Linked DNA regions of Homo sapiens. The protein of the gene in region 1 purifies or fractionates together with the protein of each later gene. This does not show direct contact. Each region holds a gene or a part of one and is shown in the gene's direction. Other genes may lie near its edges. The genes, in order: BIN3, PYGB, SEC63 and FBXO8.

Region 1 (8,338 bases):
TTCCCTTTCCTGGTGGGTGGAAGCTCCCGGCTGCGTGGGCACAGACCAAGGCATGGCAGGCATTCCCCACCAGTGCTGGCTGCGCCCAGCCCACCTCCCAGCCGGCCTCGCTCACCTTCCCTCTCCTTCTCCTCTTCGCCCCTCCCATCCCCAGGGGAGTGAGTTTGATATTGAGCCTTAGGACAGACAAGAATTGGGCAGTGATCATGGGTAATGCTTTGATCACTGGCCTGGGCCCAGCCCGGCCCCCTTCTTTGAGGATAAATGTAAAACAGACTTCAGGAGCTTACAGTCTAGTGGAAAGCCACAGCGTGTTCTCAGGTCAGCGGCCAGGTGTGGCAGCTGCCAGCGTGGTGCAGGACCATGGAGCGGGGCATGCTCGGTGGGCTGTCTGACCTGCCCCCACCTGGCCTCGGAGGCTGTTTCCTCACATGTGGAAAGAGAAAGCCAAACTGACTTCTCATAATGGGACAGTCAGCACCTAGGAGTGGGAGAGGAGGTTTTGGTGGGCTGAGGTGGGCAGGGAGAGAGGAGGGGTGAAGTGCGCTGGAACAGCAGAGTGGAGCCTGGGTCCTGGCTTCACGCCTGGGGACAGGCTCCCCCAGTGTGGTTGGGTAGAGTCAGCAGGGCCTCTGTGGGGTCCCAGGGACATATCTGGGAGGGGCTGGCACAGGCGCCCAGCCTGTGCACGTCTCCACCTCCCCTGCCAGCAGCCTGAGCCCTGACCTGAGATCCCACACAGCACCGTGGCACATCCACTGTCCACCCCGGGGCTTTGGCAAAGTCTGTTCTGTTGCTAAGAAGTAGAAAACGGGGAGATGGGGCCTCAAAGGGTCAGTGAGTGACCAGGGCAGATGTGACAGAGTCCTGGTCCACTACTCTTCAGCCACCTTGGCACAAGCTGCGCCCTGCCCTGACTGATGTGAGTTCCCACTGAATGTAGAAAGGTGTGACACTTGTCCCTACCCCTAGGGAATCCCAATCCCAGGACCCAACCTCCCCCCACCGTGGTTGTAATTTATCAGCAATCACCTCCAGTGGCCTGAGCAGGCAGAGCCTCTTGGTGGCTAAGGGGTGCTGTCATGGGAAACGGAGGTTTTCATGGTGAAGACATGCTCTTCCCACTGGGGCAGGCGGCCTGCAGAGGCAGGTGGTCTTGGTTCCAGGGGGCTGGCAGGAGCCCATGCAGCCAGGTGGCCACCTGGAGACACCACCACGCCATCCCCCGAGGAGCTCTGTAACCCGGCCTCCCTCACCCCCGCTCGGCACTCCGCTGTAGTCAGCGCTCCTGGTGGCTCTGACTCTGGCACAGGAAATAATAAGCCCCAGCCGACAGCTGTGGGAAGGGGGCTATGAGAGTGCCTCAGGGGATGTTGGGGGGTCAGGCTGCTGGAGCAACGAGCATAGGGCTCCTCCCATCCTGCACCGTGGAAGCCACCTTGCGCACACACGGCTTCACGCTGTGATGCCCTCCTTCCTGAGGATGTGAGCTCAGGGTGGTGGGATTGGGGCCAGGGCCAGAGAGCTCTCCACCTGCTGCCTCCTGCCTGCCTCATCCTTGCCCTGTCCCAGCGCCTGCACCTACCCGGCAGCTCCCAGGCACCCACAAGGCCCAGGCACTGGGACCATCCAAGCAGCAGGTGGCTTCTAACACAAGGATCAGGGCGAGGACCAGGGTAGCTGCCGGTGGTCCCTTGGCCATTTGGGGCTGAGGGAGAGGTGGCCTGGTAGCCTCTCAGGCCCAGCTGCACCTGCTGCCTGAACACGTGCCTCTCAGCTGCCCAGGAAGGGGGCAGGGCTCCCCAGCAGCTGCAGCTCCACCACGCAGCCGCCCTGGGCAAAGCATCAAGTCTAGCTCCTCCCAGCAGTCTCACCCCAGCCCACGCCATGGGCGACTATGCATCCTGGTGGTGTCTGCTTCCCACCCTCAGTTCCGTAGTGCTGAGGGGCCCGCGTTCTCTGTGCACAGTCCTGGGAGGCCCATGGCTTCTGCCCGGCAAGTCGGTCAGATGCTGGTTTGATTACTATGTCTAAGGGCACGGGTGAGCATTCAGGGTGCTTTGGTGGCTTCACCCACTTAGCACCTTGTTAAGACAGGGAGCCCCTTATGGACACTGTTGAGGTAGAGGATTCCTGTCTTGGGGATAAGCCCTTTGTTTCATCAAAATCTACTCCCTGGGTCTGACTTAGTTTGGGGGCATTTAATGCTTTGGTAAAGTTAATATCCTCTTACTCCCTGGCAAAACTGTTCATTACTCTTACCTCAAATGTACACTTGATTTGCTGAGGCTTTTTAAAAACAGGCCGGCCACGGTGGCTTACGCCTGTAATCCCAGCACTTTGGGAGGCTGAGGCGGGTGGATTACTCAAGGTCAGGAGTTCAAGACCAGCCTGGCCAACATGGTGAAACCCCGTCTCCACTAAAAATACGAAAATTAGCTGGGCGTAGTGGCACACGTCTGTAATCCTAGCTCTTCGGGAGGCTGAGGCATGAGAATTGCTGGAACCCAGGAGGTGGAGGCTGCAGTGAGCAGAGATCATACCACTGTACTCCAGCCTGGGTGAGAGAGCAAGACTCTGTCTCAAAACCAAATTCCTGGTCATGTCCTTTGAGAGGCACATCTGGGAGTCCTGCTCTGTGTGGTAGCTGAGCTCCTGGAACCTGACAGTGAGTCTGCCAGCATCCTCTCAACTCTGAGTGCCTATGATCCCAGTCTCAGTAACTGCTTCCTGCCCTCGTCTTTCCTCCTCTCTGGGTTCCTCATAAAAATGTCCAGGAGGAACCAACTCTTCTGGTCCTGGGTCACCTCCGAATGGCCACAGAGTCATGAGCTCCCTGGGCTGCGCAGCCTGATCCTGGACACTGCAGGGCTCTGGCTTGCCTGGTAGACGCCCCCTGCCATTGCACCGAGGGCCAGCCCTCCAGCAGCAGCAGCGAGAGCCTCAGGAGAGCACTGCTCCTGGTCACTAGAGGACACATGATCCACAAAGACGAGGCCGGTGTGGACCTGCAGCGTTGCATCGTCCACTGCTGCTCTCTCTGAGGGCCACTCCTCTGAGTCTCCCACGCGGTCCCTTCTAGTCACAGTGGAGGTCCTCAGGGCATTTTCCTGAAGCAGCTGGTTGGAACTTTGGCGGTTCCAATGGCAGAGCCAGAGGATTTCTGCTGCTTTCATGTTGCCAAGGAGCCCTTGAAGGAGAAGGTGCCCTGGGGCAGGGGTGAGTTTAGATTTCAGTTCTGCCACCTGCCAGTGGCACTGTGAGGGCTGGAAAGGGTGCCAGACAGAGAATGTGGACACCTGTGTTCTCTTCTAGACCTTCTCTGCCTCATCGTGACTTTGGATGAGTCATAGGTCATCTCTCTCTGTCCTCAGTTTCCCTCCTTTTTAAAAGTGAGGTGTTGGCCAGATGACTTCAAGGCACCTTCCCCACCATCCCCTAGTCCGTTGTGTGATAAAGCTCACAGGAGGTGGGGGTCAGGGCACCCTTCATTCCTGGGCCACCCTGTGCCACCCAGCTCCCTGGACCTGGCCCACAACCCCACCTCCTCTCATCTGCCCTCACCCCATGACATTGTCCACGTTCGCACAAGCTCCAGGGGACAGGGCCTCATCTGTCTTGTTCACAGTGAACTCCCCAAGACCTAGAGCAGGGTCTGGCGCTTGGTAGGTGCTCAGGGCACATTTTTGGACAAGTGAGTGCTGGCCAGGACGCCCCTCCAAGAGCGGACCCATCTCCAGCCAGGCCACCCCTCCAAGAGCAGACCCATCTCCAGCCAGGCCACCCCTTCAAGAACGGGCCCATCTCCAGCCAGCTTGTCCCACAGGTTCGGCAGTGTCTTCCCGAGCCTCAACATGGCTGTGAAGAGGCGGGAACAGGCCTTGCAGGACTACAGGAGGCTGCAGGCCAAGGTGGAGAAGTATGAGGAAAAGGAGAAGACGGGGCCAGTGCTGGCCAAGCTCCACCAGGTACCAGGGGAGACAGGTGGGCAGGGGCTAGACAGGTGGGCCATCGTGGTCACCTGTGGTAAGTCCCTCCCCTCACCTGGGGGCACCAAGACACCAGACGTCCCCACCCCACCCATCCCGTATCCGGCACCCAGCAGTGAGAGAGTTTTGACACCCAGGTCTTGTTCCCTAGGCACGAGAGGAGCTGCGGCCTGTGCGGGAGGACTTTGAAGCCAAGAACAGGCAGCTGCTGGAGGAGATGCCGCGCTTCTACGGCAGCCGCCTCGACTACTTCCAGCCCAGCTTTGAGTCCCTCATCCGAGCTCAGGTGAGGCCGCCAGGTGCTCTTCCCCTGGGCTTGGTATACACAGCTCATGCCACTCCCTGTCACCCACACTGGAAGGGTGGCTTAGCCATTCTCCGTAAAGACAGGGCACCCACCCCAGGCAAAGCCCTGAAGGAATTCATTCCATTACCAGAGTCCCAGGCTCAGCGACTTGGGGGACCTGTCTGCTGTTAGACTCCTCACATTGCTCTCTGGTAAATCCCATACCAGGAATGGCCGAGGTTCCCTTTTGGTCCAGCAGTTCCGCCATGGATCTCTCTACATTTCACTATAAGTAGCTCCTCTGCCCCGCACCCTCAAGTGGGCGGTTTCTTGGCCCAGGGTGGTGCCGAGAAGAAAGGGATCTGGAGAATGGAGGCCTTTTCTGAGGACTCAGCTCCCCTCCCCTGCCTACCGTGAGCCAGTCTTTTTAGCAGGAAACGGCGGGAGTCCTGCCTTGGAACCACTAAGGAAGGGGGCTCCAGAGCCCTGGGGAGAGCCACAATCAGGGCTGCTCCTAGGGCCCTGGGGTGGAAAGGCAGGCCTGGAGGCATGGGGGCGCCACTGGGGGTCAGACACGGGCCAGGCCCCAGCGTCTCCTTCCACTCGGGGACGGGAGGACACGGAGTGGCATGCTCCTCACCCTCCTCCATCTTCAAGCCTTTAGGAAGGATTGTTCCCCCAACTGGCAAAATAGAAAAGGGTGGGCACCCATGCCAGAAGCGGGTCCCTTCCACACAGGACCCTGCTGATGGCTTGCGCTCAGCAACAGCCTTAGTACCCCAACACCCGTGGCACCCTGCCAGGTCCCTGTGGCTCTGCCCCTCCTGGCCCGGGTGGTCTGAGCGTGGCTGGGCGTCTGGCGCCCTCCAGTGGCCATTTCCTGCAGGCCCGTAGTCGCAGCCGTGAAGCCTGGCCAGTGCACACCCACCCTGCCGGGCCAAAGTCAGGGTGGCCACCTGCCCCAGTCAGGACACCTGAGCAGGGTTCATGCCGGGGCGGGACCTTGTCAGTGACCCACGTACTTGGTCCTGTGCCATCTTTAGGGGGCAGTGAGACCTAGAGCCTTCTGCAGGAGGAGGTAGGGACTTCTCCTGACACTTGCTCCTGCAGCGAGGGCTCCCTCCAGCCGCCCCATTGGGTTCACGGGAGACCTGGGCCTGCCTCTTCCTCACTGTCACCTGGGTGCTGCCCTGCACCCTCCCTCCTGTTGCTCACAGGAGGAAGCCACAGGGTGCCAGGCTCCCGCGTGTCCAGGTTGGAGCAGATGGGAGGCCAGGGATGCCCTTTAACCAGGCAGCATTGCTGGGGGCTGTTGACTGCCTCTTGGGCCCCAGCCTCCCCCTCGCCCGCCCGGCTGCCATTAGTCATGGAGAAGTGAGTATTCCCAGTGACTCAGCGCACAGTGGCTTGGGCAGGGAGTGGGGGCAGGGTGGGCCGCCGCCAGCCCAGAGGTGACAGCAGTGTGTTGAGACCAGCTCACTTTAGCACCCCCTCGGCCGGCGGAAATCTCGCCTCAGGAGTATCAGCCGTGGGTCCCCGCCCCACCTGGCATTTCCCACAAGGTCCCCTTAGTGTCTAGAGCTCCTCCTCATGTCTAGAGTGAAACGTGGAAGCTTTCAGGAAACTGCATGCTTTCATTGGGTCATGAGGTAGAAACTGAGGCAGAAGTGGCCCCTATTGTCTGTGGAAAAGCCCCTGGTCCTCAGCCATCTGGGAGAATTGACGGGCTTCCCCATTCCTCCACCTGCCCCACCCTCAACCCTGTGTCCCCTCCCACACCATTTCTGGTGCCTCCCTAGAGGGACCCTGGCAGTGAACCTGGCCTCTGAGCTGTCCCCCTGGCCACGCAGCTTGGGCCATGAGCAAGGGTGGGATGCAAGTTGGGAGGGAACAGAAGGCTAGACGGGCATCCCCTTTCTTGCCTGTGCCTCTAAAGCTGGCTTAGGGCTTTGGGAGCCATCAGCCTACCATGCTGTCTTTCTGCCATGGACAAAAGCCTTGGGTTCTCCCCTAGCTTACAAAAAGCAGTAAAACTCCAGTCATGGTGCCCATCATTCCACAGTCGCCCTAGGAGGCCCATGCCTTCCTGCACCTGCTGCTGGGGGAACCAGGAGCCCGAAGCAGGGGCGCCTCCACCTCCAGCCACTGAGGCCCTGTTGCTCCCCGGCTCCTTTTGGTTCAGTCTCAGCTAGAGCCCTTCCGTGCCCTGCATATCCCCAAAGGCACGCTGCTGCACAGCTCCAGATGGGTAAGGGCAGGGGGTAGCAGAGAAGTGTGAGCCTCTGGCCCCCTGAAGCACACGGTTCCCTGGAGCCAGCACGTGCCAACCCCTGTCGCCTCCCCCAGGTTGTGTACTACTCGGAAATGCACAAGATCTTTGGAGACCTGTCCCATCAGCTTGACCAGCCAGGCCACTCCGATGAGCAGCGGGAGCGGGAGAACGAGGCCAAACTCAGTGAGCTCCGGGCCCTCTCCATTGTGGCCGATGACTGAATCCCCGTCACTCTTGGAGGACTCCTGTGACGTGGTCAGCCTCATTCATCCTTGCCCTTCTCAGGGCTAGCTGCTCCTCTCACAGGCTGGGGACAGAGGTGGCCCTGGTTCACTTGCCGGCCCTTTGCAATGAATGACTCTTCCTGAGCCTGGCACCAGGAGCCCTAGGCAGGCCGCCGTCTCCCCACTCACAGCCCCAGCAGGTAAGCAGTGTAGACAAACCCTTGGGGCTTTTTTATTTGGAGAACCGTCCAGCATGCATCCTGGCCCACGGCCTGAGCAAGCTGCAGCCCTTCTGAGGCCATGGGCTTCGTTGGCTAAGTTGGGGGTCTTAGCCTTGCATGCGTTGTGGGCATCAAATCTACCTCCAAAAGACCCATCCTGGGGAGCCCTCTGGCCCCTCGTTGCCTTTTCACTTCAAAACCTCTTTTTTCTGGGAGAGGCCCTGAACCCTGTGCGGGAGAGCTGGTCCTCCAGCCCTGGCAGGCCCTCAGCCAGCTTCCCAGCAAGACAAAGGGCACCCTTGTGGCTTTGGGACCTAAGTGGTTGGGGTTCCCGAGGTCACTGAGGACTGGTACCTCGGGAACGCAAGCTGTCAGTGGAACTGTCCCACAAGAATTCACAGGTCTCAAAGCAGGAACAGTGGGTTTGTGTCTCACCTGAGTATCTGGAATTTTATTTTTTCAAGTAAAATTTTCAATGAAACGTCCACATAGTATTGTGCTGTAACTTAGGCGAGCAGAGGAAACCCCTTCCTGGGCCTGCTGCCCTCCACGGAGCAGCAGCACCCTCCAGCAGGCAGCCCAGCATGCCAGGGGTGTGTGCGCACCTCCCCGGCCCTGGCCCACCTTCTGGAGCGAACTGCACCGTGGTCCAGCAGAGGCGCTGGGTGGGAGGGCACGCGGGCAAGCCTAGGAGAGTAGGAAGAGCTGTGGAGGACACACTCTCAGTTTGTTTTTGACTTTGGTTTATTTAAAAAACAAGCCAAAAAAAAAAAAAAAAAACCCCAACTTTATATACAAAGTCAAACTGAAACCACGGATTATGGAAAGAGGCAAGAATTATGGGTAACAGGGGAGAAGGCTGGGCCAGAGCCAATACCACATTCTGAACACAGGAGCCACGGGAAAGAGGTGCTGGTTTCTTCTGGCAAGACCGGGGTGACTGGAACGCAGTGTTCTACTGGCAAACCCAGCCCAACACTGAGCTCTTTCTAGCATGGACTCCATTCCCGTGATGGCCAAGGGAGACCCTTCCCCCAGAAGCCTGTGTCCGGAACCTAGCAGAGCCTGTGCCATCCGGAGGAGGGGGCTGCTTAGCCCCAGCCAGGCTCCATGTCTTGCTCTTCAGTTCCGTTCACTGACATCAGACCTTGTCCCACACTCGAAAAGCCTTTTTCTCCCCTGTCTTATTCTAAACTGGAAGAGGACAGGAGAAAGTCAGCACAAGACTAAAAGGGCCCCAGGAGAAATACCAAGGTTGAGGGCAAAATGACATTCTAGGGGTGCAAAAGATGTTGTATTTAGTTGTTAAGTGGAACCGGGGTTCCTCACACATCCATCCCACATAG
Region 2 (7,634 bases), on another chromosome or scaffold:
GGTCCCAGACACCCTCGCCCACAGCCTTTACCGCGCCCTGTGGCTCACTGTCCTGGAGGCCGCGCGGCCCTCCTCTAGGGTGTCCCTGCGTCCCAGTGAAGAGCGAGGCTGGTGCAGCTTACCTGTGTGTGGGGCCTGCCCGGGAAGGGCCTACAGGCAGAGCGACCAAGACACCTGGGCCCTGGGCACCCAGGGTCACCTTGTGCAGATCATGTGCCCCTGGGGAGGAGTGAGGGGGATGGAGTTGTGTGCGGTACATAGGGGAGCTGCAGGAGGGATCACGTTTACCTCCAGGGATGGGGGTGAGGGGAAGTAATGCAGCGGCTGGGGGAGTCCTGTGCTCGAGCGAGTTTCCTTGGCCTTTGCAAGTAGGCCCCTGAGCGGTTGCAGTGCTGGTGCCAGGAGGCATGTGTGTGTTGACCCCGCTCCATTTCTTCTTAGTCAACGTGGGAGACTACATCGAGGCGGTCCTGGACCGGAACTTGGCTGAGAACATCTCCAGGGTCCTGTATCCAAATGATAACGTGAGTAGCTGGCCTGGGCACTCTTGCTCAGGCCGTATCGCTTTCTGGCATAGAGAGGTGGGCTGGCTGGCCGGGCTCCCCAGTGGGGCCTGCTGTTGGCCTTGGCAAGCAGCCACCTGGTGGCCCTCTCGCCTTAGGTGCACACACGATGCCCTTGGGGAGGAGAGGGTGCACTGTCCTCCATAAAGCCCAAGCGGCTCTTCGTGTGCCTCTTGGCAGCTCTGTGGTCCTCTCTCCGAGGACACTCTCTGCCACCTTCCCCTCTTATCCACTCCCCTCATAAACACACAGCCGCTCCTTGGGGCCAGCTGGAGCCCGTCAGCCCTCCAGTCTGTGTGCTGTTCTAGCCTGCAGTGCCACTTCCCCAAGCAGGTGATCTGTCTGTCCAGGGGACCGTAGCGCCTACTTGGCATTGATGCCTGGGGACATTTGAAAGGTCCTTGGCACATGCCCTTCCCATACTAGGTGATGGTGTCGCAGCCATGTTCCCCACTGCCACCTGCATTTAGTGCCCAGTGGCTTTCTTTTTGTTGTTGTTGCCTGACAAGTCCTTAGAAGATGCCCTAGTGGGCAGAGCATGTTTAAAAGTGAGCTTTTTGTTTTATGAAAGTAACCTGTGCACACAGGAGCAAAGGCCTGGGTGCCGGAAGGCTCATCAAAGAGTGCACTCCCCTGTCCCCATGAGACTGTTGGCAGACCCCAAGCCCCAGGTACAGAATGTTCCAGAAGGCCTGTGCTTGGACAGTGCAGCTCCTGAGCAGCGCTGGCACTGTACTTCTGACGGATGGACACTGTGTCCCGGGGTGTGTCCCACAGGCGGGGTTACCTTCCTCAGTGACCTGAGGGCACACAGGCAGGCCCCAGTGTCAGGCAGCTGGGCTGGGCTCCTCTCGGCCTTCTGCCTGCACCTTTGAGCCAGGTCGCTGACCTGGGCTTCCTGGGGGAGGAGAATGGCCCAGCCTGCACCCTCCAGCTTGCTCTGCTGTGTGCAGTTCTTTGAGGGGAAGGAGCTGCGGCTGAAGCAGGAGTACTTCGTGGTGGCCGCCACGCTCCAGGACATCATCCGCCGCTTCAAGTCGTCCAAGTTCGGCTGCCGGGACCCTGTGAGAACCTGTTTCGAGACGTTCCCAGACAAGGTGCATGGTGGCCCTGGGAGGGATCTCAGTGCCAGGGGCTGGGCGCCTTCAGGCTCTTGAGGTTGCTTTCTCATGTCCCAAAAGGGGCTAGAGTGGAATGGTACATGCCCCTTGTCTTGGGGTCTCGTCATTCTGGGCCAGGATCCCACCTGGGCCCTCCCTTCCAGAACAAGGGCCACCGGCCTTGTTAGGAGTCAGGTCAGCAAGGGACATGGTGAAAGGCTCCTGTGCAAAGTCAGATGTGCTGGGCAGGCTAAATGGGGTTATTCCAAACAAAGCCCTATAGTTCCAGTGAGAGAGCCCCCAGCCCCGGTGGCCACGGCTCCTCCCCTCCGGCTGCAGCACATACCCGCAGCAGAGCACACAGCTGTAGGGCACTCACCAGCAGGCACATCGGGCACAGCGCACACCTGCCACAGTGCGAGCCCGACTGTCCTCCCTGCTCCCTCCACAGAACCCCTCCCTGTTCTCCAGGCTTCTCGGGGGTGGGGTGGGCTGGGCTGGCTCCTTCACTTGGGGAGCTTCGTATGCCAACAACCGTGGGTGCCCACGTGGGATGAAATGACTGAATGGCACCCCTTGTGCGACCTTCAGGTGGCCATCCAGCTGAACGACACCCACCCCGCCCTCTCCATCCCTGAGCTCATGCGGATCCTGGTGGACGTGGAGAAGGTGGACTGGGACAAGGTGAGCATGGAGGAAAAGGGCGGCACCTCCCCAGAGCCTGGAGCCCGTGCAGACCAGGGCTACAAGGAGCTGAGCTGGGGGGCCTCTTCCCTGGCCTTGGGAGAGCTGTGTGGTCATCATGCCCAGGAGAGACGCGAGCTGTGGGAGGGGTCTGGTTCCAGGAGACGGAGGTTCCGGGGGCCAGAGTATGGGGTCAGGGCGCGGGGGAGATGATAAGGATAGGGCTGTGACACTTCTCAGGGTTTCCCGTTGGTGCATTCTCATCTTGAAATTTGGTGACAGCTCCCCAAAGCGTTAAGTGTTTAGAGGTCTGTGCTCTATTCATGCACCTGCCCTCGCGATTCAGTGTATTTTGGACTTAAATATGTTTGTGTGGTAGGATTTTCTTAATCTAACCGTTACCAAATCAACATGTGGAACCATAAAACAGGCCAATGTGGTGACTCACACCCGTAATCCTAGTGCTTCGGGAAGCCAAGGCAGGAGGGTTGCTTGAGGCCGGAAGTTAGAGACCAGCCTGGGCAATACAGCAAGACCCCACCTCTAAAAAAAAAGCCAGGTGTGGCAGCACACACCCAGAAAAATAAAACCAAAAGAAACCATAAAACGATTTTTTTTAACTCCGTTTTGTAGAAACCCAAGCCCCTCTCTGGTCTTGGGGTGTGTGCACTCCAGGTGAGGCTGTACCTGTTGTGGGTACCCCAGTTCTGGCCAGCATAGGGCAGGTCTGTGTAGTAACCAGTGTCCTCCCCACCATGTCTGGCCACTTTAGTGGAAATAAATAGAAAACTGCTCAATGGTCTGTCCGTTTACCAGTGACGGCAGAGTGTGAAGGTGACTCCAGGTAGCAGGCGATTGTGTCTTATTTGTGTGTGTGTCACGCACTGGACCATAATGTCACACTTCAGTGGGTTGCGTCAGCAGAGTGAGGGCTCTGGGCTGCGTGTCAGGCTTTCAGAGGGCTCCAGATCCACCTTGGAGAGCAGAGGGGACGGTGGCCCTTCCTGGGGTACCCAGCATCTGCCTGGGATCCTGGACGCTCACCCTGCCTAGGCAACTGGCCAGAGAGCTGCTTGTTTCTAAACAAACACATGGGAACATTCTCTAATGGCCTAGGCCTGGGAAATCACGAAGAAGACCTGTGCATACACCAACCACACTGTGCTGCCTGAGGCCTTGGAGCGCTGGCCCGTGTCCATGTTTGAGAAGCTGCTGCCGCGGCACCTGGAGATAATCTATGCCATCAACCAGCGGCACCTGGACGTGAGTGTGGGCCCAGCTGGCCGTGTAGGGTGGCGGCTACACCCATGCCAACGGCCCCCCACCTGGCCTGGGAGAGGAGGTGCTTTGCTCCTTGAACGAGGCACCCTCTGTTCAGCAGAGGATGCTTGGGGCTGGGGGCTGTCCCTTGGCAGAGCTATTGGCTGATCCCCACGCCTGGCCCACAGCCTCAGGTTCCTCTTTGTAAATTAAATTGCACGTCCTCTCCCTCAGACCCATCTTCCTCAGACAGCAGCCCTGTGGGTCCCTGGGCCGGGCTGGGCCCTTTCCTGGGCTGGGGAGTTGGGTGAGCGAGAGCCTCCTCCTCAAGCTGGGCCTGGGCTCTTGTGAGATGCCTTGGAGGTGCCTGCTGGGTCTGGGAGCACTTGAGGGAGGTCTGGCTGTCACAGCCCCAGAACTTCCCTGGAGGCAGCAGAGCTTCCCATGGGTGGTCATGGAGTGTCCCCTGGTCATGGGGAGTGCTGGGTCTCCGTGGGGCCTCCTGTGCCCACCCACCTGCCTCTGTGTTTTGGCACCAGCACGTGGCCGCGCTGTTTCCCGGCGATGTGGACCGCCTGCGCAGGATGTCTGTGATCGAGGAGGGGGACTGCAAGCGGATCAACATGGCCCACCTGTGTGTGATTGGGTCCCATGCTGTCAATGGTGTGGCGAGGATCCACTCGGAGATCGTGAAACAGTCGGTGTGAGTGGGGCGCTTGCCCGAGCGGGGCCAGCTCTGTCTGACACCCAGGCCTGCGTCTAGGACCATCCACCAAACACATGGACCCAGCTATATAGCATACAACCTGTGCCACTAGGCCCCTGCCTCCATAGGAATGACAGAGCTGCCCAGAACACCCTGTCAGGGTCACGCCTTGTTGTGCGTTCACCGACCAGCACACGGGGGCCTCTGGAGGGCTCTGGCTCTGCGGGCAACGGGGAGACGGCTTTGTCTCCTGTTGCTCTCCTGCGCCCCTGCCTTCCTGGGGGTCCAGTCGGAGGCTCTGCACCACTGGTCCACCTGCCGCTGGCAGGGCTTGGACAGGGCTTGAAGGTGGGATTCTTAGGTCAGATCTTGTTCTTGCCCCTCTTAGGTGGGGCGTGATCTAGGAATTACTCCCACTCTTTCACGTAGCATGTGCTGAGCACCTACTGTGAGTACTGAGCAGGCAGCAGCCGGCGGGAGCGGAGGCTGTGCCCGGGGCTGGGCTGCAGGCTCTGTGCGTGGCGCCCGCAGCAAGCTTCGTGTCGGGCCCCTCCCCAGTAGCTATGAGGAAACCGAGCGCAGCTTCTCAAGCCCTGAAGTCCTGCGGTCTCGGCTGTCATGACTTGGACACCTGTTTCCGCACGGACCGCTCTGGAGAATGGCCAGGCTCTAATGCCTGCAAGGTTGTGGTTGGGCAAACCGCACAGCCAGCCACAGATGCCCCGGGGTGCAGGTGCTGCCTTCGTATGGCTCCCAGAGCCTGCAGCTGCCGCGGTCACTCTGTTCTCCTTAGAAAACAGAACAGAACCACTGAGCTTGAGGGCTCCTGGGACCTCCTTAAAAGGACTTTAAGGTCTGTTGCTCACCTGGTGCAGGGCACAGCATTTGTGACAGTTCCCTGTTCTCTGTGTTTGCAGCTTTAAGGATTTTTATGAACTGGAGCCAGAGAAGTTCCAGAATAAGACCAATGGCATCACCCCCCGCCGGTGGCTGCTGCTGTGCAACCCGGGGCTGGCCGATACCATCGTGGAGGTGAGTCCCGGGCCCCACCCGTGCCTGTGGAGATGCCTGGGCTGAGAACCGCGGGCCATGTCATCAGCCCCTGCTGAGCGGTTGCTGAGTAGGCAGGAGTCTGTCCCTCACGTGTTGACCTGCAGGCTTCTGGACATGAGGGCTGAGCCCCTGAACATGGGCGCTGAGCTGGGCAGTCACCCATTGGGCCTGGCGGGTCCTGTGTGCGAGTTCAGAAGCCGAGCTTTAGGGAGGGCTGGGGTGTGGCTGAGTGCAGCCACGGGGCCACTGCAAAAGAGTCAAGAGGCAGCTGACTGCCAGCTAGGCTGGGCACCTATTTCCTGTTTGTATGTTGGCTCCTATGCAAGCTCCCTGAGGAAATGAGTGCTGAGGTGTCAGGCCCTGCGCTACAGGCAAGGACCAGCCGCTGGGAGGGTGGGACCGCCCACCTGGGGCTATGGTCAGGGAAGCCTTCCCAGGAAAGCTGAGGTCTGAAGAGGGAATGAAGAGAGAGTGAGCAGTGCTCTGGGGCAAACTGGTTCAATGCCCTGTGCTGGGGGACGGGCCCCTGGGACCTGGAAAGCAGCGTGGCTCCTGTGCAGTCTGAGATGGGCCTGGGTACAGTGAGGAGAGGTGGCCGAGTGTTTGCAGGCAGCACCTGGGTGAGGTGCTGGCTTTGAGGGGACCGCCTGCTTCAGGCAGGGAAGGTGCTGGTGGAGGGCAGCGGGAGGATGGCTTTGGGTTTTGGGTGGTGATGGGATGTTCAATGTCAGAGAACCCTGGGATCGGTGGCTGAGGGAGGGTCGTGTGTTTCCTGTGGACGTTTGAACTGGTGGGACTGGGCCATCTCGCAGAGCCCTCTCAGAAGAGGAAGGAGGGGCTGCTGGGGTAACCCTGTGGCCTGAGAGGTGGGATGCCCGGAGGGGCCGGACAAGCAGATCCCAGGGGAAAGCAGGGGCGTGGGCAACAATGGGAGGAGGGCAGGTGGCTAGGGGGCCCAGCCTCAGGAGGCTGAGGCCCACAGTGAGCGGAACCTTTACGTTCTCCAGAAAATTGGGGAGGAGTTCCTGACTGACCTGAGCCAGCTGAAGAAGCTGCTGCCGCTGGTCAGTGACGAGGTGTTCATCAGGGACGTGGCCAAGGTCAAACAGGTAGGCATGGCCCTGGCCCCAGCCCCGACCCCAGCCCTCCCACAACCAGGCAGGTAGGCCCTGGCCCTAGCCCTCCTACAGGCCCAGCACAGGTCCTGGGGTACCCACTGGGGCTTTAGTGGGGACTCAGAACAGGACTGAGGGTGAGGCTGTTAGGGTTGCCTGAGGTCTCTCCACCCCACTCAGCCTTTCAGATGAGGGCCCCGAGGAGGACAGGTCACATGGCAGATAGGTGAGTGCAGACCCCAGGCCAGCCCTGCCCGTGCCTCGACCCTCTGCCACAGGTCAGTTCTGTATGGAAGCCTCTAGAAGCCGATTCCAGCGTGGTACCCTCTTTGCCCCTGGAGAGCTGTGCAGGTGCACGAGCTGTCTGCACCGGCAGCAGCCTCTCGGCTAGACCAGGGCCAGTCACGGCAGCCTTCAAACCTCAGCGGGCTGGAGGCCCATCTACACAGCCTGTCGAGCTTGGCCTCCTCATAGAGGCCAGAACTAGTTCTCCTTGTAGTCCTTTCAGCCGTCCCGCTCCCGCGCTGCTCCGCCGCCTGCACGCCTGGCTCTGCAGTGTCTTCTGCTTGGCTCCAGGCGTGCTCCTGGGCCGGCTCCTCACTTATCCCCTACTCTTGGTGTGGACCCACCTTCAGCATCCCCCTCTCCCCTTTTCCCATGAGAAGACCCCTGGTGCAATCTCTGCCCCTCAGCTCCAGCCTGTATACCCCTGCCCCCTCCCTGCGGCACTCTTCACAGGGCACTTGAAGCAGGAAGCCGCAGGGTCAGTGGATGGAGTCCTGGTGAAGTCTCCAGCCATCTTTCCCTTTCACCCTCCCAGGAGAACAAGCTCAAGTTCTCGGCCTTCCTGGAGAAGGAGTACAAGGTGAAGATCAACCCCTCCTCCATGTTCGATGTGCATGTGAAGAGGATCCACGAGTACAAGCGGCAGCTGCTCAACTGCCTGCACGTCGTCACCCTGTACAATCGTGAGTGCCGGCATCACCTGCATGACCGCGCTGTGGGGCCCAAGGCTTGCCCTTGCCCGCCAGCTGTGCACAGACCCTGGGCCTCTGTCATGGTGGGGGCTGTGTGTGTATAGGCGTGTGCATGTGTGATGTGGCACGTTTATTTTAAGCAAAAGCCATGTTTTTCTGTGTGCCCCATGCCAGGC
Region 3 (7,634 bases), on another chromosome or scaffold:
GGTCTCACAGCCTTCAGAGCTGAGCACCCCAAACAGAGATTTACCCACATATCTATTAACAGCAAACCAGTCATTAGCATTGTTTCTATAGATACTAAATTAACTAAAAGTATCCCTTATGGGAAATGAAGGGATGGGCCGAATTAAAGGAATAGGTTGGGCTAGTTAACTGCAGCAGGAGCATGTCCTTAAGGTACAAATCGCTCATGCTGTTGTTTGTGGCTTAAGAATGCCTTTAAGCAGTTTTCTGCTCTGGGTGGGCCAGGTGTTCTTGCCCTCATTCCGGTAAACCCACAACCTTCCAGCGCGTGTGTTAGGGCCATTATGAACATGTTACAGTGCTGCAGAGATTTCGTTTATGGCCAGTCTTGGGGCCAGTTTATGGCCAGATTTTGTGGGGGCTTGCTCCCAACAGAGGCCATTTTAGGGTTAGTAATTTGCCCAATTTGAATCTTGTGTGTCTCAGGGAATAGGGAGGCATGAGGAGTGGGAGAGAGATGGGGGAATGGCCAGTGAGTGGAGCATTTGAAACACATATGTATTAAGTTCTTTTTCTTCTGCAGGTGCAGTTTGTGTGCCAGCCCCGCAATGATAATAGAAATGTCAAAGATCACATATCACTATAACAGATAAAATAATAGTGAAAACATTAGATATATTGTGAGACTTACCAAAATGTGAGAGAGGGACATGAAGTGAGCACATGCTGTTGGAAAAATGGCACTGATAGAATTGCTTGATGCAGGGTTAACACAAATGGCAGAAAAACACGATTATCTGCAAAGTGCAATAAGAAGTTTGCTTGCAATAGCATACTAAGTTATAATAGCAAATTGTGAAAGTGGCATGTAAATGACAGAAGTTTGGGAGATATCACCTTACTTATTTTTGTACTTAGTAGAGGATATTGACTATGTCTCTTCTCTCCCCTTGTTTTGTGGCTTGCTGTTTATCTATGTGAATTACTATATGATTCTGTAATAAAGCAGTGCCATTAGGACTTTTGAAGTGTGTACTACATTTTCTGCGTAGCAGTTGTCCTTGAGGTTACTGTCTTTCAGTTAGTGTCTCCTTCAAGCATTTACTCTCTTTTCACAAGTATTGGTATGCCTTGATTGCTGTCTTCAGGTAATTTAAAAAGACATTTCCAGAGGAAGTCAGGTAGCCAAGACTATTTAATTAGTAGTTTTTATTTTAGTGCTTTGGTGAAATCCCCCCACCCTATCCCCCCAGTCTTTAGGTATTTTAACATTTTCAAGTTTATAATTTTGTTCTCAGATTTCTGGAAATCTGACTATGATGTGTGGTCACTATTCTGAAAAATGCACAAGAATAATATAAGGTGTTTAGTTTTAACTCAGTTATGTGGTTAAACTGTAGAATATTTTATGTATAAAATGTCTTAAATAGTTGACGTTCTGTAAGACCAATGAAAAAGTGAAGTGATCGTGGGACCTAGAACTTTGAGATTATGTAACTTGCATAAATATAACTATATTAGATAAAGGTATATATTTTACCAACTATAAGTTCTAAGTGCTTGAGTTGAAGTTCCTATCTCATGAATAACTCTAGCAGCCTTGGAATGCAGTTATATAGGCTTTGATGTGCAAAGTTTTTTAGAACTTGCTTAGGTTATTTGAGATCATTTTTCTCTCCTTAGTTGCCTATTATAATAAACCAGCTGGGTCATTTCATTTTTTTTTTAATCAGATTTTCACTCTTTCCTTTAGGAGTTATACCATTGAATTCTCTGGTTCATTATCTAGATAGAATTGAGATTTTGCTCTCAGATGTAAAACCTGTCTTTAAAGCTATTGTATAGCAAGTGGGCAGCGTTGTTGTCACCTTAAAGATATGTTAATTTTTATAAAAGCATATGGTTTTTACAGATGAGCATGTAACTTATAATAACTGTGCATAGCCAACTCATGGTCACTTGTTTACAGTTTAGTGAAAGCATTCTCTAGATCAAGATTTATGATCTGGAGTCCCTGAAATTGTATACAAAATTTATGTGTCTTTGTAATGTGCATTTTTCCCAGGGCAAAGGGGTCATAGATTTCCTTAGATTCATAAGAGAATCTATAATCGTCCTCTGTTACCCCCAAAAAATTAAGGGATATAATCATGTTTAGGAAACTACACTCACTGAATTTTCAAAAATTCTGTTAGCATCATTGATCTTGTTTAAGCTTGTTAAATGTGAATTATACTAAAATTACGCAGCTTTTAAGTACTTTAACTCTTAGAAGTGGTATTATACTGAAATGCTAAGTAACAAAAATTCATTTGCTTCTTAAACTGACTTTAAGTTGCTGACTTATTTTATTAGATTGAATGTTCAACATGGTTCCCATCACACAGCAGTTGTAGAAGTCAGTTTAATGAGTGAGTTAATGTAATCGTAACTCGTAGGTCTGTGTAGGTTGCAAAATCAGAGTGTCTCTGATGTGAGCTATGCTTTATTTGGCAAAATCTGGGAGTATTGTATAGAGGACAGAGCAGTTTGTTTTGCATAATCACAAAGGCAGAAGGGGACAGAGATGGTTATTTTGGGCAGAAGGATCCAATTAGAAGACAATAGTGAAAGAAACAAGCTAAAACTCTGAGTTGGGTGGACAGTTGTACAGGGGATCTAGGACAAAATTTTTGAGAAACATCCCTCAATTTTGAAAAGAAAATCTTAGCACTATTCCTTATTATCTTGCAACCTGTCTAGTAATGCTTTTTATTGGCTCCTGTATTTTTCTGTGGCCTTTCATCAAATAGTGTAAGTGGAGTTACAATTAAATAAGGATTAAAGACATCAAGGCACCTGTTTGCATAAATGACTAAATTGATAAATTTAAAAATATTTTCAAGTCATCGAAAACTAATGAATGTCCTTTTTGCTATTTTATAAAGGTATTTCTGCATTGCCTATCTCAGATTGGAGTTTTGTTAAATAGAAACTACATTGCCTCTTAAGTTTTGAGAAGTAGAAGTACGGTTAAAATTAGATTTGACCATATGGAAGATCTTTTACCAGTTGGTCTCCAAGAATGTCTTCCTTATTATGTTATTGGTCATTTTTGAGCGTGTGTGTTGGTGGGGTGGTTTCTGCCTTATATTCCTTAACTACATTGTATATTTTTGTAAGGAATTGGGAATTCATTTTAATGCTTTTTAACATCTTCACTGGGAACTGGAATAAAGTTATTCTTGACTCTGTACCTTGAGCCATTGTCAAAGTCAGGGGTTACATTTTAGGTATCTAAAAATTACTCTTTAACTTTCACATTCCCTGGGTTAGGAAGCTGCTGTTCAGGAGAAATTTTCCTGGTTCTTCTGGCAATTGGCTTAGGAGAAAATTGTGATCTTAGCACAGTGCAAATTACCTTACCCACAGCAATGGAGTTTTACATGTGGTGGTCATCTGTTTCTTTCAGAATGTGGTGCTATTGTTTTGTGGGGAAGCTACCATTATGAATTAAATTTATGTTTTTAAAAAATGTGTATTTATCATTACTAATGTATAAACATGCTCATTGAAGAAATTTTGGAAAATATATGAGAGTATAAGGGGAAAAAAATCGCCTACAATTCTCCCTGCCTTCTTAGAAAATGTAGTTGCCTTTAAAGTTTGATCTGGTTGAACTGAGAACCATCTGGTTGAACATGAGAACTGGTTAAGCTTGAGAACCATGGGCCAACCAGGAATTAGTATCAAGACGCAATAGTTAGCATTTTCTGTTAATGCGCATTTCTTGCTCCTCCCTTTCCCTTTCTCCTGATTTCAGAGAAACTTTTCTTGATTCATGGAATCAGTATCTTCTAAGAAATGAGTTGGTTGGCTAATGGAGTTTGTCTATATGAGTACTTGTTTTTCAGATGTGGCTTTCTAATTTTGCAACTTTGTTCTTTTGATGCTAGTTTAACGGATGAAGAGTCCCGGAAAAATTGGGAAGAATTTGGAAATCCAGATGGGCCTCAAGGTGTGGTAAATGATGATTTTAAAATATTGGCGATATGGTATATATTATAAAAATGTTAACCAGATTAAAGGAATAATATTATTTTCTTACTAAACTTATACTCACATGGAGTTTAACATAGATAAATTGAGCTCTCATTAATTTTTGCTTTATTTTTCTTTCTAAAGACTAGTTTGAAAGATATAATTTAAGTTGATCCATAGAGAAGAATAATCACTATCATTTCCAATTACTAGTTGATAAAAATTTGGAGGAAAAAATCTTATTTTTCTTTACAGACTTCACATTTTCTCATGTGTTCATAGTGTTTATGTAAACTCAGGACATATAAAATAATTTATATTTTCTTGAGAGAAGGAATTTGTACTTACAGGGTTTCTTTTTCCTTGAAAAATTTGAAGTTTCAGATATAAACTATATCCCTGAACTTTTGTGTAATGGGGGCCTACTAATAAGATAATCTTTCTCAAAGTTTGTTTTTGTGTTGTGGGGGAGAGTTCTGGGATATATTATAGATCCCAAATATATTTAATGTATTTATTAAAACTGAAAGTAGAGATTCTTCAGAAACTGATATTTTTTCTATTTCAGCCACAAGCTTTGGAATTGCCCTGCCAGCTTGGATAGTTGACCAGAAAAACTCAATTCTGGTGAGTGCATTTAAATAAGATACATTATGATGTATTAGACAAAATTTTTGTTATGTACAATCTGTCTTGGTAATACAAGAAGAACTATTACAAAGAAAATACTGGTGTGCCATTCATTCATTCATTCATTTGAGACAGAGTCTTGCTCTATTGCCCAGGCAGGAGAGCAGTGGCGTGATCTCGGCTCACTGCAACCTCTGCCTCCTGGGTTCAAGCGATTCTCCTGCCTCAGCCCCCGCTGAGTAGCTGGGATTACAGGTACCCACCACCATGCCTGGCTAATTTTTGCATTTTTAGTAGAGATGGGGTTTTGCCATGCTGGCCAGGCTGGTCTCGAACTCTCAAACTCCTGACCTCAAGTTATCTGCCTGCCTCAGCCTCCCACCATGTTGGGATTACAAGCATGAGCACTATGCCTAATTTTAATTTACAATAAATTGAATTGTATATATTCCATATGGTATTTCAGGAGGAGGTAGGATATCAGACTTCAATCACTGCAACCCTAAAATGTCAAGAATTATCTTACTCAGGGATACATTCCTACTTCAACTTTCTTGAAAATAATTGTCTAAAGGCTGTCTTTGAGGCAATAAAAACAAAATCCACATAGTCTGTAATTTGTTTTGAAAATGGCTATTAAGTTATTATCTGGCAGATTAAAATTGGTTACCTTGAGGGGGTATACAGTTGCTGCATAAGCTTGTTTGTCATGCTTCTGGTTAGTAGGAATAGTCGAGAAGGAATAAGTTACTACCAGATTTAGGATCAAGTAATAGGAGAAAAATCAGTAGGTAAAAATTGCTAGTCAGCATTATGAAGTGACTCCTTGATATTTAGCTAAAGGAACCTTTGGCCAGGGGCTTCTTATCTCATTTGTTCCCAGAGCACTAACTACTGAGAGGTTGTGGATATATAAATACCTGCCTGACTGGAAGAGAAATGTAATTTACAAAACTGTTTTGCTGGTGTTAATCTGTATTGTGTCAGTAAATAAAAAATTAAAAGGTAATTTATTATAGTGGATATGAACATAGGCTCTAGAGCTGAACTACTTGGGTTCAAATCCTGGCTGTGCAATTTGCTAGCTGTGTCCTAGGACAAGTTATGTAACCCATGTGTACTGCAGGTTTTCTACCTACAAAAGGAGGGTAATAATGGTACCTTCCTCTTGGAGTTTGAGAATAAGGATTAAACAAGATAATACATGAGGAATCCTTTTAATAGTGGCTCCCCCATTGTAAGCCTCAAAATAAATTCATGGATGTTGTTTTAATTTACCTGACGAAGGCCATAATTCTTTTTCTCTTCAATTTTAGGTTTTACTTGTATATGGATTGGCATTTATGGTTATCCTTCCAGTTGTTGTGGTAAGTTTTAGCTTTTTAAGTTAATGTTTTTTTTGGAAAGGAGATTGACATGTTTTGGAGTCTCCCTATAACATTTTAAATGTATGTTAGAATATAACCCATTGATCCTTGAATTTAAGAGTCTTGCCACTGAAGGTGAGGTGGGAGGATCGCTTGAGCCTAGGTGTTTGAGGTTGCGGTGAGCCATGACCCCACCTCTGCACTCCAGCCTGGGCCACAGAGTGAGACCCCAACTGAAAAAAAAATTATATAACTATACTTTTAATGGTCTTCTAAATGTGACATTACTTGAGCATGATGTGTATATCCTCCCAATTCAAAAATTACCCACAACTGACCGGGCATGGTGGCTCACTCCTGTAATCCCAGCACATTGGGAGGCTGAGGTGGGCAGATCAATTTAGGGCAGGAGTTTGAGACCAACATGGTGAAACCCTGTCTTTACTAAAAATACAAAATTAGTCAGACATGCTGGTTTGAACCCAGGAGGCAGAGGTTGCAATGAGCCGAGATTGTGCCACTACACTCCAGCCTGGGTGACAGAGCGAGACTCTGTCTCAAAGAAAAAAACAAAAATCACAAAAGTTACAACTGAGTTAACACAGATACATATATACATATGTATACATATGTGTGTATGTATATATGTATGACATATGTATATGTGTACATATGCATGACAGATGTGTATAAATGTATGACATGTGTATATATGCATGACACGTGCATATATGTATGACACGTGTGTGTATGACATACATGTGTATGACACGTGTATATGTATGACATGCATATATGTATATATGTATGACATGCATATATGTATATATATGTTTTAAATACAGGGAAACTGTCCATTTTAATTTTATTTTTGTTATTTATTTATTTTTGAGACAAGGTCTTGCTGTATAGTAAGGTGGTGCAAACATGGCTCTCTGCAGCCTCTACCTCCTGGGTTCAAGCAAATCCTCCCACCTCAGCCTCCCAAGTAGCTAAGACCACAAGTGTGTACCACCATGCCCTGCTAATTTTTAAATTTTTTTGTAGAGATGGGGTCTTGCCACGTTGCCCAGGCTGGTCTTAAACTCCTGGGCTCAAACGATTATCCTGCCTCGGCCTCTCAAAGTACTAGGCTTACAGGTGTGAACCACCATGCCTGGCTGACACAGATATATTTAAAGTTTCAAATGAAAGTCTTCCCGCACTACCACCCTCAACTTCATTTATTTAGGAATCATTGGGAAGTTGGGTGTTTTTTCTTTAAAATCTTTTTCTATGAATTTATGTACACACATTCATTTTAAAAAAAACCTTTAATGAGATTTTACTGTATGTGTGCATTATTCTGTTTTTTTGCTTAATATAATGGGGATGCAACATATAGAAAAGCCTCATTTTTTAAAACAGCTGTATAATACTATAATACGGAGATACCATACAATTTGATATTCACCATTTGTTACTTTTGTGACTTGTGTCCTTTCTGATCCTGGAGTTCCTTTTAGTCACATAGTGAGTCTAATAATTAAGTTGTTTGTTTTGCTTTCTTCAAAGGATTGTTGCAAGAATCCAATCATATTAAGTAATATGAATGAAAGTGTCATGTCAACTTGTAAAATTATGCCTACATTTGTTTA
Region 4 (7,634 bases), on another chromosome or scaffold:
AAATGTACAGTTGCGATTGCTTTGGGGTTTTTTCCCCCATTTTTTTTTTTGTTTTTATTTCCTTGGAAAGGAAGAGTTTCAACTTTGAAATCTTATGGAGAATTTTTTTGTAGCATAATTTCTCTCTGTGACCTAAGTAATTATGAAATTTTTGTTTACTTCTGTCAGATGATAAATAATGAAGTTATGTTTCTGTGTTTGTAGACCAAGAAAAAACATGTTTGGTTTCATTTCGAAGCTCCTTAGAAAGAATTCTATAGATCCTCTCAACATGATAAAGAAGCTTTGAACAAAATAAATTCAAATTTGGAAGAAAAGGCATGGGACACCTTGAATTGTATTAATTACAGTTGATCTTCATTATTTATAATTTTGTATTTGTGAATTTACCTACTCACTAACATTTATTTGTATCTCCCAAAGGAGTACGCCTGGTGCTTCTGCCGCCTTTAGCAAACATGCGCAAGAGCTGAAAAAACTGTTGTTCAAGGTGCACATTCGCAGCTGAAGTTGAAGGCAAGGCTCTGCCTTCTTATCTTAGCTGTCATTATAAACAAGTGTCCTTTTTGTGGCTTATTTAATGCCACATTTCCCACATGCTTTTTCTTGGTGATTTTAGTGTTTAAAACGGCCCCCGGCCGGGCGCGGTGGCTCACGCCTGTAATCCCAGCACTTTGGGAGGCCAAGGCGGGCGGATCACGAGGTCAGGAGATGGAGACCATCCTGGCTAACACGGTGAAACCCCGTCTCTACTAAAAAATACAAAAAATTAGCCGGGCGTGGTAGCAGGCGCCTGTAGTCCCAGCACTCTGGAGGCTGAGTCAGGAGAATGGCGAGAAACTGGGAGGGAGGCGGAACTTGCAGTGAGCCGAGATCGCGCCACTGCACTCCAGCTTGGGCGACACAGCGAGACTCCATCTCAAAAACAAAACAAAACAAAACAAAACAAAAAATGGCCCCCAAGCCTAGTGCAGAAGCGTTATCTAGTTTTCCTAAGTGTTGTGCCTTATGGATAAAATACATGTTAGATAAGCCTCATTCAAGCCTGAGTTATAGTGCGGTTGGCCATGAGTTCACAGTTAATGAATTAGCAATATGTATTAAATGTCTTTCAGCAGAAACACACATACAGTAAGGTTATGTATTGATCAGTTAATGAAAATATTGTGAATAGAGGCTTACAGTAACCTAACCCTGTAATTCCCTAGGAACAATGGTTCAGTATTGCTAATTCAGTGTTTGCAGAAACTTTAAAGAACATAATTGCCATGAATAACAAGAAGCAACCGTGTTTCTTTTATTTCTGTATGAGATAGACTAACATAGACTATGCTCTTAGAAGAGTAAATATTTTTTCAAAGAAATAAATATCTATTTTCTCCACCTATTTTGAGTGAACAAATAAAGCTGTAGTTTCATCACAAAATCCATATTTACACCAAAACTAGTGATTTCAAATACAAAAACTTATTTTGTGTTGAATTTTTTTTGAATTTGAAACTTTTTGCATATTCAGTGATTCCACATTGCAGCTGAATTTTATTTTACCTAACAATTGCTGCAAGTGACAGGACAGTAATATATCTTTTATAATATTATGTTTCAGTTTTAAAATCTTTATACCAAGATATTATTAAAACTTTTAACACAAATCTGAAAACTTTATACTTTGAAATTAAGTTTTAATTGGTTCAGTCTAAACACTATTTTCAAGAGTTTGAAATCATGGACGAACCCCGCATGAAACTGCATCATATTCTACATCTCTTTTAGAGCTAGTGTTGACAGTTTATTTTCTTTTAATTTTTAATTTTAATTTTTTTTAGAGGCAAGGTCTCACTCTGTCACTCAGGCTGGAGTGCAGTGGTGTGATCATAGCTCACTATAACCTCAAACTCCTGAGCTCAAGTGATCTTCCTGCCTCAGACTCCTGAGTGGATAGGACTACAGGTATGCACCATCGCACCTAGCTAACTTTTTTTGTATTTTGTTGAAACGGGGTCTATGTTGCCCAGTCTGGTCTTGAACTCTTGGTCTCAAGCAGTCCTCCTGCCTCAGCTTCTCGAAAAGTGCTGGGATTACAGACATGAGTCACCATACCTAGCCACATCTTGACAGATTATTAACAATAACACAAAGACCTATTTCATGGAACTGCTATTGGCACCATCCTCAGGCATGCTGAGTTTTAAAATTTTCTGTGAAAGACAACACAGCCTTTTTTTGTTTTCTAGAGTTTTTTGTTGTTGTTGCTGGGTCATTGATATAAAAGAATTGGATTTACAAGAAGAAACAACATAAAAACATGGTCACAATATGAAATAACTAAAGGAGGTGAATTGTGTGTAGAGGCCCTACAAAGCTGTGCAAGTAGCAACATGAACAAATAAGCTTATTCAACAGGCAGGACATCAGAACAGTTTAAGTATCATTAAATAAGCTTTATGAAAGTGCTTATTTTCACTTGATAAAAATATGCTTGTCAAAGTAATATCTAACGTATTGACTGTTAGTTAACTGTTAGCCATGAAATTAACTTTATGTACATTATCTTACTTAACACAATAGCTTTTTGAGCTATAGACATTTTTATCATTATTATTTTTTGCATTGTACATGAAGAAACTAAAGCTCAGAGTAGTCAAGTAACTTTCCCAGGGTCCTGTAAGTAAGAACTAATAAAGTCAGGATTTAAACCCAGGTCTGTCTGACTTCAAAACCCATACCACTATACTCCCTCCATGACTTGCTTTACAACTTATACAATGGATGTCACGTCATTTTGAGAGTTTTAAAGCTTTTCTGACAGTTACACCCATGTTTCACATCCCTATTATGCTAAGGAAGATAGGGAATGGGGGCAGAACGCTACAGACTCCCTTTTCTTTCTCCAAATGCTAAACTCATGATGTTACTCTTTCTCAGAGTGCTTTATCATTACTGTGTTTTTACCCAGGATCAAGAACTGCTTTAAAGGGAAACGAAAGTCCCAAGGGGACAATTTTCAGTATTGTTTAGCAGTAGGAATACAGAAAATAAGGTATAATTTTGCAGTTTTCTTTGTCTGAACTATGTATACATGAGCCTCAACCCTCCAACCTCCCCATTATTATTATTATTATTTTTTAAAGAACCAGCTGCTGGCTTTACCTCTTTCTACCTGCCGGATGCTTTCTGAATCATATTATCCAGTGTGTTCAATTTAAGTGATCCCCATTAAAGTCCGGAGCCTAGGGAAATCACCCTGATTCTTTGTTCCCTAGCAACAGGCCTAAGAGTAGCAACAGCTGCTTAACCATATGCCACTAGAAAGATTCTGTAGGAAAATAGACTGAAATTGTTATAAATGTTTTAAATATTGAGACTTCAGATACTGCAGTTACCATGTTTGATAATTTACCTTTAGTGGTACAAAAACAAAAGAGAATAAATTTAATTATTTAAAATAACAGCTGTGCTAGGTGAGCTCAGCAATTAATGTGATTTCTAGATATTTTCTTGCTAAGTTAAATAGAGGAATAGCAATGGTGAAAATAAAATACTTTTCTTTATGATTAGTAGACTTAAAATGTTCAATTTGTGTCAAAATTAAGTTGTACTTAATGTTGTAATGTGACATGGTACATTTAAACAAATATAAAACTTGTACTTATAATTTTTTGTTGACATTCTCTATTTTTTGTACGTTGATCATTTCTACTGTCTCCATAGTTTTGCCTTTTCCAGAATGTCTTATAATTAGAATCATACAGTAAAGAACTTTTTTAGATTTGCTTCTTTTACTTAACATTAATAATAGGCACTTAAAGTTCCTCCATGTCTTTTCATTGCTTGATAGCTCATTTCTTTTTAGTGCTAAATAATTTCCCATTGTATAGATATACTGTACCACAGCTTATTTATACATTCGCATAATGAAGTACATCGTAGTTGCTTACAGGATTTGAAAATTAATTACCAAAACTGCTTTAAACATTCACGTGTAGGTTTTTGTGTGGACATAAGCTTTTAATTAGGTAAATACCTAAATAAAAAGCTTTTAATTAGGTAAATACCTAAATAAAAAGCTTTTAATTAGGTAAATACCTAAATAAAAAGCTTTTAATTAGGTAAATACCTAAATAAAAAGCTTTTATTTAGGTAAATGATTCAGCTAATGCTGAATCATACAAAGTATGTTTAATTTTTAAAGAAACTACCTGTCTTCCAAAGTGGTTGTATCATTTTGCATTCCTACATTCTTGCCAGCATTTGGTATTGTCACTGTTTCGGATATACTCTTTTAATGGGTGTGTAGTAGTATCTCATAGTTATGTTATTTTCAGTTCCCTCACGACATATGATGTTGAGCATCTTTTCATGTGCTTATTTGCCATTTGTGTATTTTCTTTGGTGAGGCGTCTATTCAGATCTTTTGCTCATTTTTAAAGTGGATTATTTTCTTACTGCTGAGGTTTAAGAGTTCTTCACATATTTTGGATGCACAGTCTTTTTATCATATATGTGTTTTGCAAAGATTTTCTCCTGGTCCGTGGCTTGTCTTTTTATTTTCCCGATATTCTGTTTTTTTTTTTTTAAGAATTTTATTTGTATAGCTTAACCACTGATTTAGGAAAAAATACCATGGTGTCGTGTGTAGTAGGGAGAGAAGGGTTATCTTTTGTGCCTTCTTTTCAAAAACAAATGTGCCTACATTTTAAAATTATTAATATGTTTCTTCTCTTTGTACCTCCCCACCATACCTGTATAGCTTAAGCTGCTGGGATTCCAAGCAGTGCAATATAAGGTGGGGGAAGAGTTAAAAATTATCCTGGACTATTTTTTCTGTTTTAATCAACAAATGACCGAATTTAGTGGCCATTACCCAAATAATAGCCAATGGTTTAGTAAATAAATGCGTGGATTATACCTTTTTAAATACTAAAATAAAATCCCTATGGATTCTTCAGAAGTACCTGGGAAAAGACACCAGAAGAAGGCATGCTCTAGTCTGCCCACTATTTTTTCTGTTTTAATCAACAACAATCTTTGACATTCTTTGAAGTTCCACTCAATTTTCAAATTATTTCTGATTAAAAGATATCTAGTCACTGTTGTTGGTTTGTTTTTTGTCTTTTGGGGTTTTTGCTTTTGTTTTTGTTAGTACTTATTGTAAACAGTTAATTGAAGCCACATTATATTTTAAGTTCGGGTCATGCTATAAAAATTATTTGACTATTTTAATGATTTTATGGGAAAGTTAGTATTTTTTCCAAGTTTTTGAAACACACAGGTATTAGTAGTCAACTCGAGTTGATAAAAGTATTTTGTTTGAAAAAGAGATCATGAAAGTAATTATTTGTATTCATTAGGAACTCCGATTTAGTTGTTCTGAATGACTTTATTTGCTCCAGAAAAGCTATTTAAAGGCAATGCCAAATCTAGCTCTAGGAATTTTCTAATACATTTGTACATGAGGAAGTCAATATATGTGACAGACAAATGTAGAATGCTCTGGTGGGAGGTCAGATGGTAGTGGGGAGACTAGAGCACACCTTTCTTCTGGTGTCTTTTCCCAGGTACTTCTGAAGAATCCATAGGGATTTGTGGAGAAGAATTAGAAAATTTCTCTAAATTACAATTTTTAATTTAAGGCAACAACAAAACTAAATAGTCTACTGTTACCGAGCTATTTATCATGGAGTTCTAGGTGTCTAATTTACAAGGTTTCTGAATTAGACTTCAGGGCCTATGTTACATTTTATTACAGTCTACAATGTAAGTGTAGACTGGCAAGAATTAAACTAAAAGCCTGTTTCCCAGCTGTTACGCATCTGGGAGTTTGGTTAAAAGGAGCTAGCTTAGCTTAGACTGAATTGTGATAAAAAGCAGGGTCTGGAGGCCTTTTAACTAAAGTCCGTGCTCTGATCAGAGCTGTATTTAATACTGGCCCATAAGTCCACATAATTATAATTTGTAAGAGTATTAAGGACATCAGTAACTTTTAAATCTTACCACGTGAAAAATGATTATGTCACATATGGACTTTAGAAGTAGTTAGCAAACTGGGATAAAGGTGATGATCGAACCAAGTAATTCTGAAACTTTGTCTATCAAAATTTGCACTTATAATTTTCCAGCTATTCTTAGTAATATACTTCTGGTTTTAGTAGGTTTTAATGAGAAGTTTTAATTCTGATAAATGAATGCTTCATGTCAGATTTGTTATACCACTGGGAAAAATGGGTTACTTTTTAAATGTCACCCTTATTACATTCTGGCTTTTTCCCAGGCTTGCAGATGGGTCAAGGGTTGTGGAGAGTGGTCAGAAACCAGCAGCTGCAACAAGAAGGCTACAGTGAGCAAGGCTACCTCACCAGAGAGCAGAGCAGGAGAATGGCTGCGAGCAACATTTCTAACACCAATCATCGTAAACAAGTCCAAGGAGGCATTGACATATATCATCTTTTGAAGGCAAGGAAATCGAAAGAACAGGAAGGATTCATTAATTTGGAAATGTTGCCTCCTGAGCTAAGCTTTACCATCTTGTCCTACCTGAATGCAACTGACCTTTGCTTGGCTTCATGTGTTTGGCAGGACCTTGCGAATGATGAACTTCTCTGGCAAGGGTAAGTTAAACCCACCAAAGTTGAATTCAGGTATCTCTAAACATAATCATGCTTCAATGTTCTTTTTATAATGTATATTACAAAATATTTTCTTTAAACTTGGGCTTGTACTTTGAGATGCTCTTTATTAAAACCTGGAAAAATATACAGTTAGCATCACAGTCAAATTTGATCTTGTGAAAAGGAGGACAATAGAAAATAGAATAATAACTTTACAGTTAGAAGAGAGGTTACCAATCAGGCTCTGTCAGTTGATTATAAGTCAGAAACTCTCACTTTATTCTGAAAATACCGCAAAGTTGTGGAGTGAGAATTTCTAATTTAAAAGTTGGAGTGTTCACATGCTGTGTAGTTTGTGCTTCCCATAGGATACCTGCCATCTGAATAATAGGCAGACTTCGAAATCAATGAATAGTCCTCAAATGTTACTGTTTTTAATTTTCTTCATATAGAGCCTTACATTTTTACTCAATTCTATATTTCTTCAAAGGTGCTTGTTAGAATAAAATTTAACTGGTGAAAATTTTATCTACTTTTTTTTTCTAACCAGCATTTCAATGAAGTAGGCAAATATTAGAAAGCAAGGGGACAAATAGTTGTTTTTATTTACTTGCTGAACTTAGATTACATAAATTTCCACATTGTACTAGTCTGAATTAAAACCACAAATCTAAGAACATTTGCTGGAATAGAATCTGTTTTATTGAACCTAAGTTACTCCTTAAATAGCATCATATACTTTAACAAAAAGTATAGGTACATGATTTTTTGGCCTAAAAATATTACCAAACATGGAATCATTGGATCTCAGACCTTCTAGCATCCTTTACCAAAGTTTATTTGTCTTATTATCTTGAAATAGGTCTTTATAAAAATATAGACTATAACTAAAAACAAATATCTTTTTAAGACTTCCTATAATTTCAAACTAGAAATCTAATTGAGAGACTTAATAAATTACAAACTTTAGTCAAAATATATTTTCAGTAATGACATTCCTAAATTAGGCTTTCTGATGTCACACAG

Evidence for each region.
Region 2: the proteins of BIN3 (region 1) and PYGB purify together in Homo sapiens (affinity purification with mass spectrometry; one large-scale study listed by BioGRID and IntAct). This does not show direct contact.
Region 3: the proteins of BIN3 (region 1) and SEC63 purify together in Homo sapiens (affinity purification with mass spectrometry; one large-scale study listed by BioGRID and IntAct). This does not show direct contact.
Region 4: the proteins of BIN3 (region 1) and FBXO8 purify together in Homo sapiens (affinity purification with mass spectrometry; one large-scale study listed by BioGRID and IntAct). This does not show direct contact.

Annotation. Positions count from the first base shown.
Region 1 is NC_000008.11:22,619,852-22,628,189, reverse strand, and holds the end of BIN3 (bridging integrator 3), read left to right. Parts: intron 1-2,777; coding exon of another isoform or gene 2,778-2,889; exon of another isoform or gene 2,890-3,820; intron 3,821-3,826; coding exon 3,827-3,968; intron 3,969-4,140; coding exon 4,141-4,275; intron 4,276-5,492; exon of another isoform or gene 5,493-5,649; intron 5,650-6,621; coding exon 6,622-6,768; 3' UTR 6,769-7,772; downstream 7,773-8,338. UniProt on the Homo sapiens protein: Involved in cytokinesis and septation where it has a role in the localization of F-actin.
Region 2 is NC_000020.11:25,276,803-25,284,436, forward strand, and holds part of PYGB (glycogen phosphorylase, brain form), read left to right. Parts: intron 1-441; coding exon 442-524; intron 525-1,516; coding exon 1,517-1,660; intron 1,661-2,254; coding exon 2,255-2,347; intron 2,348-3,463; coding exon 3,464-3,610; intron 3,611-4,146; coding exon 4,147-4,310; intron 4,311-5,230; coding exon 5,231-5,345; intron 5,346-6,373; coding exon 6,374-6,475; intron 6,476-7,301; coding exon 7,302-7,449; intron 7,450-7,634. UniProt on the Homo sapiens protein: Glycogen phosphorylase that regulates glycogen mobilization. Phosphorylase is an important allosteric enzyme in carbohydrate metabolism. Enzymes from different sources differ in their regulatory mechanisms and in their natural substrates.
Region 3 is NC_000006.12:107,909,709-107,917,342, reverse strand, and holds part of SEC63 (translocation protein SEC63 homolog), read left to right. Parts: intron 1-3,915; coding exon 3,916-3,977; intron 3,978-4,568; coding exon 4,569-4,627; intron 4,628-5,946; coding exon 5,947-5,997; intron 5,998-7,634. UniProt on the Homo sapiens protein: Mediates cotranslational and post-translational transport of certain precursor polypeptides across endoplasmic reticulum (ER). Proposed to play an auxiliary role in recognition of precursors with short and apolar signal peptides.
Region 4 is NC_000004.12:174,261,738-174,269,371, reverse strand, and holds part of FBXO8 (F-box only protein 8), read left to right. Parts: intron 1-6,271; 5' UTR 6,272-6,279; coding exon 6,280-6,608; intron 6,609-7,634. UniProt on the Homo sapiens protein: May promote guanine-nucleotide exchange on an ARF. Promotes the activation of ARF through replacement of GDP with GTP.